Homo sapiens: one gene and its partners. The protein of the gene in region 1 interacts with the protein of each later gene in a pairwise test. Each region holds a gene or a part of one and is shown in the gene's direction. Other genes may lie near its edges. The genes, in order: LRRFIP1, SH2D2A and SERPINB5.

Region 1 (3,719 bases):
AGAAGTGGCTTCCTGGAGGAAGTGGCATTTTGAGTTCTTGAAGGCTGTATGTACCAGTCAAGATGCTTTGGCTGCTGGGACAGAAACCCTGACTGGACTGACATTGACAAGGGGAAGTATATTGGCTGGAGCACAGCAAGCCCGGAGGCAGGGCAGGATTCCCCGCCAGCCTCACCAGTGGCTCCGGCCTCTTTTTCCCACAGCACCTGCGCAGCTGGTTGGGCTGGGCCATCCTCTGTGGGTGGCCTCATCCTCAGGCTGACTTGCTTCATGGAGGCCAGCTGGCCTTGGCTTTCCCGGGCTGCCACTGTGGAGCCCACACACCGTCTCTTCTGGTGGCTCTCTCCAGAGAGCTAGCAGTATCTCCCTGGTAAACTTTCATGAGTCTGTCTGGCCACTCCTGCACCAAGCTCTTTGACAAGGACCATGGACTTAGGGGCTCAGTGCCTGTGGCAAAGGGGGGTGGGTCTACCCTGTGACCTGTCAGACTCATCCTGGGACTGGGGAGAGCCGGCCTCCCTGAAACACTTGGGAAGGTGGGGGCCTGAATGGAAACTGGGGAGGCTTCAAGGAAGTGGGAGGGAGTGGGCTGCCACTTGGGCCTGGCACCCAAGAACATGCCTTCTGGAGAGTAAGTGGAAAATTCTGGGCTGAGGTCATTGGGAAGCCTGAGTCACCTGGCAGGGACGTGGGTTCCAGTTCGCTGGAGCGAGGGGAAGAGCTAGGCTGCCCTGTGCAGGCAGGGCTTTGCACTCTTCTGGGTAGAAGCAGGACTCGTGGTGGGGGCAGCCTTTGGAGGGTGCATTTCTGCTTCTGCAGCCGGTGTCCTGCTTCCATGTGATGGTTTAAACTCTAGGCAAGCGTGTATAGTAAAGGGAGTTATTTGCAAATGCTGTATTATCGCAAGTCAATTATTTCTCACTCTCTTGTTGCAGTGGAATTCAGGCGGGATGTTATCAGGAGAAAGGTTTAGTACGCACTTGCAGAAGCTCATTAGCACCAAAGGCATGAGCTGCGCCTCCCACTTCTGGGGAGGGGTGTTTCCAACGCAGATAGATTTTCCTCTCCTACCGCATTTCACATTCTACTGGTGCATTTTGGTAGCATCCCAAACTTCTCATTCAGCACTCTGCAGCTGAGTAAAGCGATACTGGTCTCACCATGCAATTCAAAGTATTGCTCTCAAATGAAGAATGTTTTTCCCAACAGGAACAGTCATTTGCGCAGGCTGCATTAGGAACTCACCGTGGGGCCTTGAGACAGTGCGGTGAGCTTATTATCCCCTGGTGGTGCCATAGGTACCCCTTCCTCACCCAGCAGGACGGAGGCCCTCCCCCCATAACTGTTTCTGCAGCCTCCTCTCCAAGCTGGCCCCTCTGTGGCCTGCGGCCTCGGGCCCTGATCCATGGCAGGGGCACTGCTGCCCCACCCGGCTGCTTCACCGGCCCCAAGTTGACTCGTGGGCCTGCGGGTGCTGTTGGTTCAGGCCTCACAGCCACCGCCTTTCACTTGAGCCACGGCCACACAGGAGTCCAGTTGCGGAGAAGGGGTCGCACTGCCCCCAAGGAGTCCAGTTGTGGAGAAGGGGTCACACTGCCCCCAAGGAGTCCAGTTGTGGAGAAGGGGTCACACAGCCCCCAAGGACTCCAGTTGTGGAGAAGGGGTTGCATTGCCCCCAAGGCAGCCTGCAGCCATCAAGTAACCATTTTGTGAGGTCACAAAATGTCCCCCAGGCTTGTTTCAAGATGCAACCAATTCTGTGGTACGTTTCCTGCTCCGGAGCTCTCTGCGGGCCAGGCTGAGGCCAACTCCTGCCGAGACCACCTCCCTCCCCAGCCCTTCCCTGACTGGCCTGCCCCCCTCATGCCCCTGCTGGGACAGGGCTCACATCCAGTCCTGCCATGGGCTCTGCTTCTGGAACCCAACATAAAGCCATGCCCCTTGTTTCAGGTAGTTCGTAAATATCGGGTCTTTTCATCCTAAGTCCCCCTTTCATTCATCTTTTCTCCCTGTCCTTCCCAAATAGCCCTCCTATATCAACCTGTGCGGAGGGAGCCTGTCTCTCTTCTCCTCAAGGCTGTTGGAGAACCAAGCTGGGGATGGGGTGCACGTGTTCTTTTCCAGAACAGCCCAGAAGTGGGGTTCAGTGTGGAAACTTCGCTCTACCTCTCTCCAGCACTAACCTGACCTGGCTCCTCTGGGGTGGAGAGTCCAGGACTGAGCCCAGCTGCAAAGATGCAAATCTGGGTCCCCAATGCAGTCCCTTGCCCTCTGGTGAGGTGACCCTGGGGCCAGAATTCACCTGCACGCAACCAAGATGTCAGACTTGTCCCTAGGCCTATTTCACTTGATTTGAAAGTGAATTTCATGACTTTTTTCTCTATGAATTTGCTTTTCTGAGGCTGGCCAGCAGATTGCACACCAACTGAGTGCTGCTGGACACTGGTTTGCCATTGGGGCTGGGCCCTGCCCCTTTGTTCCACAGGAGTTGGGAGAGGTGAGGGGCGTTCAGTGCCCGGCAGGACACAGGACTGTCCAGCCTGAACAACATCCTGCCTCCAGTTGGAACCCAGCCGCAGTGGAGTCACTGAGGGCTGTTCTGCAGCTGATTCTCCTAAGCCAAACACCCATCTTGGCAGATCGTCTACAAGGTTTTAGGAATGTGACAAGACTGGTGTTCCAGACGGATTTTTACCAACAGTCTGAGCTGTTGGAGGGCGTGAACAATGTGCCTGTGACCTTGGGCTGTTTGTGCGATTCCCAAAAGATGCTTCTGGGTTTCTGAGTCCACAGAAAACTCAGCTGTGGACAGGCCTGCTGGTCCCCAACGGCCCTGGGCCCCACCCCACAGCTATTTCTGTCAGAGGGCCAGCTGTCTCCCTTCTTCCTTTTCTGGGTGACTCTTGAGCCACTCGTTGGCCTGGTACTCAGGGTTGGGATGTGTGTGTGGAGAACATGACCTGGCTTCTAGCCCTGCCTGTCCCCCGTGAGCCCTGCCCGTCCCCAGTGAGTGTGAGACGGGAAAGGAGAGAGGGGCGAATGGAGGTTGCTTCTAAGACCCAAGGTGTGCCAGGTACTCTGGAAGCTTTACTCCCATAGTTTGTTTAAATCCTGTGAAAAGAGTTCCGAGTCTCTCTGTTTGACAGAGAGAAAACAGACTCAGAGACACCATGGGACATGGCTGAGGCCACCTATTAATTAGGGGCTGCCAGTTCATGGCCCAGGCTGCTTCCTGGATCAGCCCCTCAGCTCCCTCCAAGACCCCATTCAGGCTATGTCCTGCAGGCAAGCCACCTTCTTCCTATCCCTGGCACATGTCGTCCCCCACTGACCTGTGAACCACCAGGGGTGACATTTCAGGAGAGAGAGTCCCATATCTGTCTCTGCCTTACTGTATCTCTCATCTTCTTTTTCCATCCTTTCATCTTTAAAAAATTGATTTTTATTTCATCAGAGTAATATATGTTTTTACCCATATTCTCAGGCCGTTCCCCACACAGTAGGCTGGGCAGTCCTTTTAAAATATGTCAGATCATGCCACTTCTCTGATAAAAACTTTCCAAGGGTGTCTTGTATCACTCCGTAAAACCCAAGTCCTTAAACAAGCTACAAGACCCTCAATGATCTGGTAATGATCTCCTTGTTTATAAATAACATACATATGTATTACACATTAGTTTATCAATTGCAGATGCTGTCAGCTGGCTCCTGCATTGAAG
Region 2 (4,276 bases), on another chromosome or scaffold:
AAGCAAAAAAACAGTACACAATTTTTTAAAAAACAGTAAGTCTTGGCAAGTCCATCTCCCCCATCTGACATCTTGAAACAAAGTTTTTTTTTTCCTCTCTGGGTTCTCAGTACCAAGAACAGTGCATAGCACATAGTCATGAACCTTTGGCCTAAATCACAGTGAAATTAGTGAAAGGAAGTCTACCTTCTAGTCCCAGCACTCACACCAACTTCTCAGACACTGAAAGACCCTGGCCAAGGCACTCCTCTGAGCTTCTGGTAAATGGGGATAATGTTCCTGTCCCCTTCTTAGTTTGTGAAGATAAATTCAGAGAGAAATGGGATTGGTCCTTTGGTATGGTGGGAAGTCTAAGCACATTGAAAGTTTAAGACATTAACACTGGCCAGTGCAGTGGCTCACGCCTGTAATCCCAACACTTTGGGAGGCCGAGGTGGGTGGATCACTTGACGCCAGGAGTTCAAGACCAGCCTGGCCAACACGGTGAAACCCTGTCTCTACTAAAAATACAAAAATTAGCCAGGCATGGTGGTACAAGCCTGTAATCCCAGCTACTCGGGAGGCTGAGGCACAAGAATCCCTTGAACCTGGGAGGCGGAAGTTGCAGTGAGCTGAGATTGTGCCACTGCAGTCCAGCCTGGGTGACAGAGCTAGACTCTGTCTCAAAAAAAAAAAAAAAAAAGATGTCAACACTGATGTTATTAATGACAACTGCTGATAGTGTTGATACTAATGATGACCTGCTTAGCTGGAGGAATTCTCTTTCCTTCCTCCAATATTGCCTGGTTTTGCCCTAACTCAGCTCCATTATCTGCTGAATGATGGAAGCCAGGCCCCCTCCTCTCTAACCCCTTGTCTTATAGATTTCTTTATTATTATTACTATTATTATTATTATTTTAAAAATAGTGATGGGCTCTCACTATGTTACCCAGGGCTGATCATGAACTCCTGGGCTCAAGCGATTCTCTCGCCTGAGCCTCCCAAAGTACTGGGATTACAAGCATGAGCCACCATGCCCAGACTCATAGATTTCACATGTCCTCAAAAAGTCCTTCCAGAAGTCTGACCCACATCCTTCCTGTTGCAGCCCTGCCCCCTCCCTTCCTCATGTCTCCTCAAAGCATGATCCATAAGCACCTTGTGTGGCTTATCCTTGAGGTTGACATCCCCATTCCCACTGCTCAGAACAGGCCAAGAGGCAGAGTGGGAGATTTTCCAGAGAGAAAGAAATAGAAGCCAAGAGAGATGAGAGAGAGAGAGAGAGAGAGAGAGAGAAAGGGAAGTTCTAGTTTGGGGTGAGGGGGCAGAGAAAGAATCTGGAGGGATGAAGGTCAGGCAGCAGTAAGGGCTTCCTAACACCTAAACACAGAGTGACACAGATACCCCCCACCGCTATACCACCGCTATCTACAGCTGCGTGGCTTCCGGGGGTGGGACAATCGTCTTAAGGCTTTCCATGACGTGAGTCCTCGCCAGAACTAAGGCTGTGGGTAAGGCGACATTTCCTGCCCCCGGGGCCAGGGTGAGAGGAGAGATGATGAGTTGCTGAGTGTGCACACCTTTCCGGAACACATACACACACCCTGCTCTGGGATCCCTTGTGAGGCTGCCCTCATGGAGTTCCCCCTGGCCCAGATATGTCCCCAAGGTAAGTGTGAAGTTGAAGGATATGGGTGGGAGGGGGCACAAAGACCCCCATCCCCCTGCCCTCCCTCCTGGGCTTGAGCTCCCACTTCAGGGATGAGGGGCCCCACCCTAAGCCAGAGCTGGCAAAGCTGATTGGCAGGGTGACCACAACCCTGCCTGGGGCTCCATGCCCACTCATCCCTGAGGATAAAGGTGACAGGGTTTGTTGAGGGCTTCTCAGAGAGGAGAGAGGAGGGAGCAGGAGGATGAAGGGAGAAGGAGGCAGAAGATCCTGGACCAGAAGAAGGGCCTGCCCTGAAGTGATCTGCCTCCCTGACCATCCGAAGGCCAGCCTGACTCCCAGCCTCTCCTTCTAGGCACCTGGTGTCCCTCACAACCTCCTCTGGCAGCATTAGCCCCCCATGCCGCCTTGGCTACTTAACCTCATGCCTGAGAAACTCCCCTGCTGCCCTTCTGCGTTTTTCCTGTCGTTAAGACTGTCCCAGCCCTCCAGATCCCCTGAGCCTGGGAGGAGGGGTGGGAGGCAGAGACAGACATAGTTCCTCTCTGAGAAACCCCGGCAGCCCTCTTTGTGCTCACAGGGAGTCACGAAGCCCCCATCCCAACCTTCAGCACCTTCCAGATCACAGACATGACCCGCAGGAGCTGCCAGAACCTGGGCTACACTGCGGTGAGTGGAAACCTGGGGCGGCAGCGTGGTGCAGCTCCCTCATCTCTCCCACCCTCCCATGGGGAAGGACTTGCAGATGGACAAAGGCCACTCCAAGAGAAGGCAGGAATGATCCGGGTCTGCCAACGGGCTGGGGCACAGAGAGAGAGAACGAAAATGAGGAGTACCTCCTTCATGCGCCGAGTTGCCCACTCACTCCCTTACTGCTCCTAGGCCCTCTGGAAGCTCAGGCTGAGTCCGCAGATGACCAGGGTGCAGTGCATTGAGTCCCAGAAGCAGGCATCTGCACTCTGTGTCAGTGACCATTTGCCCAGTGCATTCCACATTCCCGTCTCAGTCCTTCTCTCCTGCCCAGTCAATAATTTTCCCTGCGAACTAGGTCAGTCCCTCATATTATGAAGTAAGCCCTCCCTCATTCTGGCCTCTAGGGTGACTTCCTGCATCATGTTTCTTCATCCTCCAGGCCAGGGAATGACTCTGTCCATCTGGAAGGCTGTGCTGCCTTTCCCGCCCCTCCTAGAGCACAGTGTGACAGCTCACTGCTGCTGGATTAAAAGCCCTCAGGACCCAGAGGGCAAAGGAAGGAGAGTCTCTGGAAGCCAGAACAGCTGGAGCTGAAGAAGGGATTTAAGTTAGACTTTAGGAAGGACTTTCTGGGCAATTGTACCCTAAAATAGACAGGAGAGGCTGGGTATGAGGAAAAGAAGGTGGCAGGTGGATCAAAGTCAGGAGAAGGCCCACTCATCATGCTGCTTCCCCCTCCTTGAACTCTTCCCTGATCCAGGCATCTCCCCAGGCCCCGGAGGCTGCCTCCAACACAGGGAATGCTGAGAGGGCAGAGGAGGTGCCTGGAGAAGGAAGCCTGTTCCTGCAGGCCGAGACCCGGGCTTGGTTCCAGAAGACCCAGGCCCACTGGCTCCTGCAGCACGGGGCAGCCCCTGCCTGGTTCCATGGCTTCATCACCCGGAGGTGAGTCATGGAGGAGGAAATTGGCCCAGACAGGGGCAGGGCAAGTCCTGGGTCTGGGTCCTGCCACCTGCCAGGAATAGATGAAGGCTCCCACTTCTACCAGTCTGGAGTAGATGGAGGCGCCCACTCCAGGCTCCCACTCCCAGAGTTTTCCTAGCCTTTCACTGAGGCATCTCTCCAGGGGAGATCATTGGAGAGGCTCCAGTCCAGCCCTCTGTGTACCTCAGCTTCCCCTCTCTAGGCCCCATTATCCTCCTGTCCCTAAGGCCTCGAATGCTGGTATTTTCCACCTCTCTCTCCCTCCAGGCTTACTCCATCTTTATCTCCCAGCCCTCTCTTCTTCCACCCTTGCAGAATCTCCCTCCTCCATTTCTCAGCCTCATTTCTCCCTAACTCTTTGTTCACCTCCTCAGTTCAGCTTTGACTTCTGAAATCTGGAAGTCCAACTACTTTCCCATCCCTGTAGCTGCAGTAGCAGCCCCTGCAGGCTGCCCTTTCAGGATGAGGCCAGGGGAGGATGCGGGGGTCTCCTGAATGGGACCCCTGGCCCCTGTCCACGCCTAATCCCTGCAGCGGGAGAGCAGCGCCCACGTGCTCTCTCTCCCCATCTCCGCCCTAGCCTTTCTCTAGCCGCTCCAGCATGCTTGCTTGGGGGTAGGGGTTCCTCGTGAGAGCCGGGGAGACAGAGGCGAGGCTGGAAGTGTCAGAGCAGGGTTCGGCCCCCTCTCTCCGTCACCCACAGGGAGGCAGAGAGGCTGCTGGAGCCCAAGCCTCAGGGGTGCTACTTGGTGCGGTTCAGCGAGAGCGCGGTGACCTTCGTGCTGACTTACAGGTGAGGGGCGAGGCCCCGCGCCGGGCGACACAAGGCGGGGCTCGGGAGGGGCGGGGCTTGGGTCTGATCCCGTGAGGAGCCGGGCTCTTAGCTCATTCCCCGGGCTGCTGAAGGTGGGGATCACGCCTCTCGCTGGTGACCCTGGCCGAGGAGCGG
Region 3 (3,719 bases), on another chromosome or scaffold:
TCAAGGGGAGACTTCAGGACATGCAGGATTTTTGGAACTCGAGAGACTTCTGAGAGAACAAATGCCAGCAAAGATGCAATTAACAAGAAAGCAGGTGATCAGGTGTGGCGGGGAAGTGCCAGGCTGGGAGCTAGAAGCAATGAATTCTAGGTCTGGTTTTGCCACTCTCACTCCCTGCGTGGGTGGCCTGGGAGACTCACTTCATCTTTGTCTGCCTCATTTTCCTCATCTGTAAAATGAAGAGGTGTGGCCAGCCTAGATCCTCTCCAAGATCTTGTCCCACTTTCAAGGTTTATAATTTGCACAGATTGCGAAAGCAAGGTACTTGGAAATAAGTTCTTAAAACTGCATTTGTATTACTGCTTGAACTTCCATCTATCTCACTTTCCTATGGTTAAAATAAAGTTCCTTTTAAACTTTTAAGTGCTGAAAGATGTAGCGTTTTCTACATTGCAACTATAAACGAAGTTCTCCTTGTTAAAATGGTTACAGGGTTTTCACAGAAATGGAAGAAGACCCTTGTGACAAGGCAACAGAATGAAAAAAAATTTGTAGCAATTTTAGCACTTTCAACAGAAGTCATTAGGCACATTAAATTTATTATATAGGAATTGCTAATCTCTACTCTGGTACTTGCAATTTTATAGCATTTGATCATGCAAAATGGTCTGTGTAGGAAGTTTGTATTTTTTCCAGGTCATGTATTGTTAACATTGCTGAGGTTTGTTTAAATGCTTTGATTGTCTTGCAACACAGTCATGTGGCAACTGTGGCCAAAGTCATCTTTTGAGCTACCTCAGACCAGATCAACTTTATAGTGTTTTTAGGTCACTTGGGACTAATCACAGAGCCACTGATCAGATTTACCGGGCAGTATTTGATTGATTACTTAGTGGGTGATTTTTTGCAACTACAACCTTTTCCATGTACAGACCTTTTCTGTTTCCTTTAGCCAGCATCAAACAATGCTCTTGCCACTGGGACCCCAGATACTAAGGGCTGTATGACCTTCCCAGACATGAAGGAGAATTTTCTGAGAAAGGAGCCAGTCAGCATAGGAACAGGAAGGCAGATCTCTTTGCGTTCATGCACTGAGGATTAGCATGCAAAGGAAGGGACTCACTCAAAGGGAAGGTCCGCCAATGGTGAGAGAAAGCCCCAGAGATGTTAGGATGTCAGATGTGCACTGATTTACATCTCCAACAGGGACCTGGATCTAAGCCTTGAATTGCAACACAGCATTAATTGTATTGTGTAATTAACTACACTAAAAGCCACAATGATCTTGTATCCACAATCATTTAGACTAAATGTATCTCAAAATGTTGTGACAAGTGAATGAATAATGCTTTAGTGAAATAAAATGGTAAAATGAACATCTCCTCACCATTTGATCCACTCCTAAGATCCATTTGTAGGTGTTTGCAGCCAAACTCCCTCAGCACATTAAGATCTTAAACACCATCTTTCTATACAAAGGAAATCACTAAAAGTATAGTTTGTTATTGACTATGCAAAATTATTCTAGTTTCTCTTGGAGGATAATAAATACGTGCTTGGAGGAGCTACTTGTGTTTGTTAAAGCAGTTTGTGTGTTTTCATATTATTATCAGTGCGATTAGCTCTCCACTGGTGGAAGTGTTAAGAAGCTTTCAGGGATCTGGGTTTAGGCTTCTCTATTTGGTGAAGAAATAACTCATTACTTCTTGTACATGTTGAGTTTTACTTGTAGATGAACTTGGCATTACTAATATTAAATGTGCTGTGGAAGGAAGCCAGGTTTCCTATTCTGAAAGTCTGTCCACAGATTCCCCAAACCTTTTGTGAAGAGTTTCTTTATGTTTTCCCAGTGGCAGGCACACTGGGTGAAACACTCAACAGGCTTTCATTTTTGCCTCAGTATACCCTGCTGACCTCAGTATACACCTAATGCCAGTCACCTTTCCCTGGGGTGTGATGTCACCTGTAGGCCCTTGCCCCTGCCCTGAGGGGAGAAGGAGTAAGGTTGTGGGCTTTAAAGAAAAGTGAGAGGCCCACCTGACTTCAGGGGGCCTCGTGGTATATTTGCAATGGGAACTGGCCTGAGCGCATGGCTGTACTTATCAGGGACATATGGAGAAGGAGGAAGCCCATGGAAATGACCAGTGAGCATGAACAGAGTCAATAAAACATTATTTTTGGATAATGAACTCGCTTTTTCAGACTCTGAGATATAATCGATTTAAGTCCATCCTACACACAAGCCATATATCCCATAAAAGGGAGAATTCTGAAGAAATGTTTAAAGACCAGGAGTCCTCTCCTCCATCTTATTCTCGTCTTTGCATTCTGAATTTGTGTCCAGGTATAAGGTGCAAATTGCAATCCTATTCATCATGCCTTTGACTCTTGACACACGTTTGGGTACTGGCCAAAGGGAGTCCTCTATCTTAAGCAGTGGAGCTTACTTTCTAATGCCAGGGTGCATGTCCTACCTGAAGACCTTCAATGTCACATTCGGCCCTTGTGTCTGTGTGTGTGCGCCTGAGGCTTTGGGGGAACACTTCGAGTTTAATCCCTGTACTGCTCACCCCGGGGTAGTAATATCAATTCATTTCCCTTAGAAACATGCTGTCCTGGCTTAGGCAGAACCTCAGGAGTTCATGTAGTTCAGCTCTGCTCCCAGAAAGGGAAGCCCTGACTGCCTGAATTTACCTAATTGTCTTTGGAGTCGATCAGTAACTACCAGACTAAATAGGTAGGTAGACCTTTATTAGAACAGTGAAGCTTTTTAAATCTGAGGACCCTGTTACACTCTTAAAAATTACCGAGGACCCCAAAGAACTGTTTCTTTAAAAAAAATGTAGATTATATCTATCACTATTTACCAAACTAGAAATGAAAACCAGACACATTTTGAAATGTTCATTTACTAATTTATTAAAATAATATAATAATTAAATACTAATATGAATAATATATATATTAAAAAACATTTTCTAAAGTGAAAAAATGTAATGAGAAGAGTGATATTGTTTTTCATTTTTGCAAATCTCCTTAATATTTGGCTTAATAGAAGGGATGTCATATAGCCTCTGGAAAACTCCGCTGTCTATTAGAGATTGAGAATGATAATGTCTTAGTATTATCATGAGAATAGTTTTAACCTCATGGACCTCCTGAAAGGGTGTTAGGGACTGCCAGGAGTCAAGACACAACACTTTGGAAGTTGCTGTGTTAAAATTAAAGAGCTCTGAGATGTGACAAGATGCCTAGTTGCTGCTATATCCACTTTACCAGGCTACATATTTTGAAACTGTTCCCTCTTTTCTTTAACTCCCATATTACTTATTATACCACTCACATGTCTTGGGCAGCTCTGTATTCTAGTTATTTGTCTGCATATCTGCCCAAAGAGACTATGAGCTTAGAGAAGGAGGAGGTCCACTGATCCTTGTAACACTCTGGGTAGTGTCTTACACACAGATGCGTATTATAAACGCAAACAATAACCGCTGCTGTTTATTAAGTATTGTTATGTGCTGGGTGTCCTGCAAAGGCATTAGTTACTTTAAGGGTTTTCTAGCACTTCTCACAAAGCACCACAAACCAGGCAGCTTAAAGCAACAGAAGCTTTATTCACCCACAGGCTTGGAGGCCAGTACTTTGAAATGACGATGTCGGCAGGGTCATGCTGTCTCAAAAGGCTCCAGGGGAGAATGTTCCATGACTTTCTCTTG

What was found.
Region 2: the proteins of LRRFIP1 (region 1) and SH2D2A interact in a two-hybrid assay, tested with the Homo sapiens proteins (one large-scale study listed by BioGRID and IntAct).
Region 3: the proteins of LRRFIP1 (region 1) and SERPINB5 interact in a two-hybrid assay, tested with the Homo sapiens proteins (one large-scale study listed by BioGRID).

The regions. Positions count from the first base shown.
Region 1 is NC_000002.12:237,630,575-237,634,293, forward strand, and holds part of LRRFIP1 (leucine-rich repeat flightless-interacting protein 1), read left to right. Parts: intron 1-3,719.
Region 2 is NC_000001.11:156,814,049-156,818,324, reverse strand, and holds the start of SH2D2A (SH2 domain-containing protein 2A), read left to right. Parts: upstream 1-1,476; 5' UTR 1,477-1,616; coding exon 1,617-1,650; intron 1,651-1,867; exon of another isoform or gene 1,868-2,212; coding exon of another isoform or gene 2,213-2,230; coding exon 2,231-2,319; intron 2,320-2,486; coding exon of another isoform or gene 2,487-2,495; exon of another isoform or gene 2,496-2,575; intron 2,576-3,103; coding exon 3,104-3,288; intron 3,289-4,000; coding exon of another isoform or gene 4,001-4,030; coding exon 4,031-4,120; intron 4,121-4,276. UniProt on the Homo sapiens protein: Could be a T-cell-specific adapter protein involved in the control of T-cell activation. May play a role in the CD4-p56-LCK-dependent signal transduction pathway. Could also play an important role in normal and pathological angiogenesis.
Region 3 is NC_000018.10:63,479,903-63,483,621, forward strand, and holds part of SERPINB5 (serpin B5), read left to right. Parts: intron 1-3,719. UniProt on the Homo sapiens protein: Tumor suppressor. It blocks the growth, invasion, and metastatic properties of mammary tumors.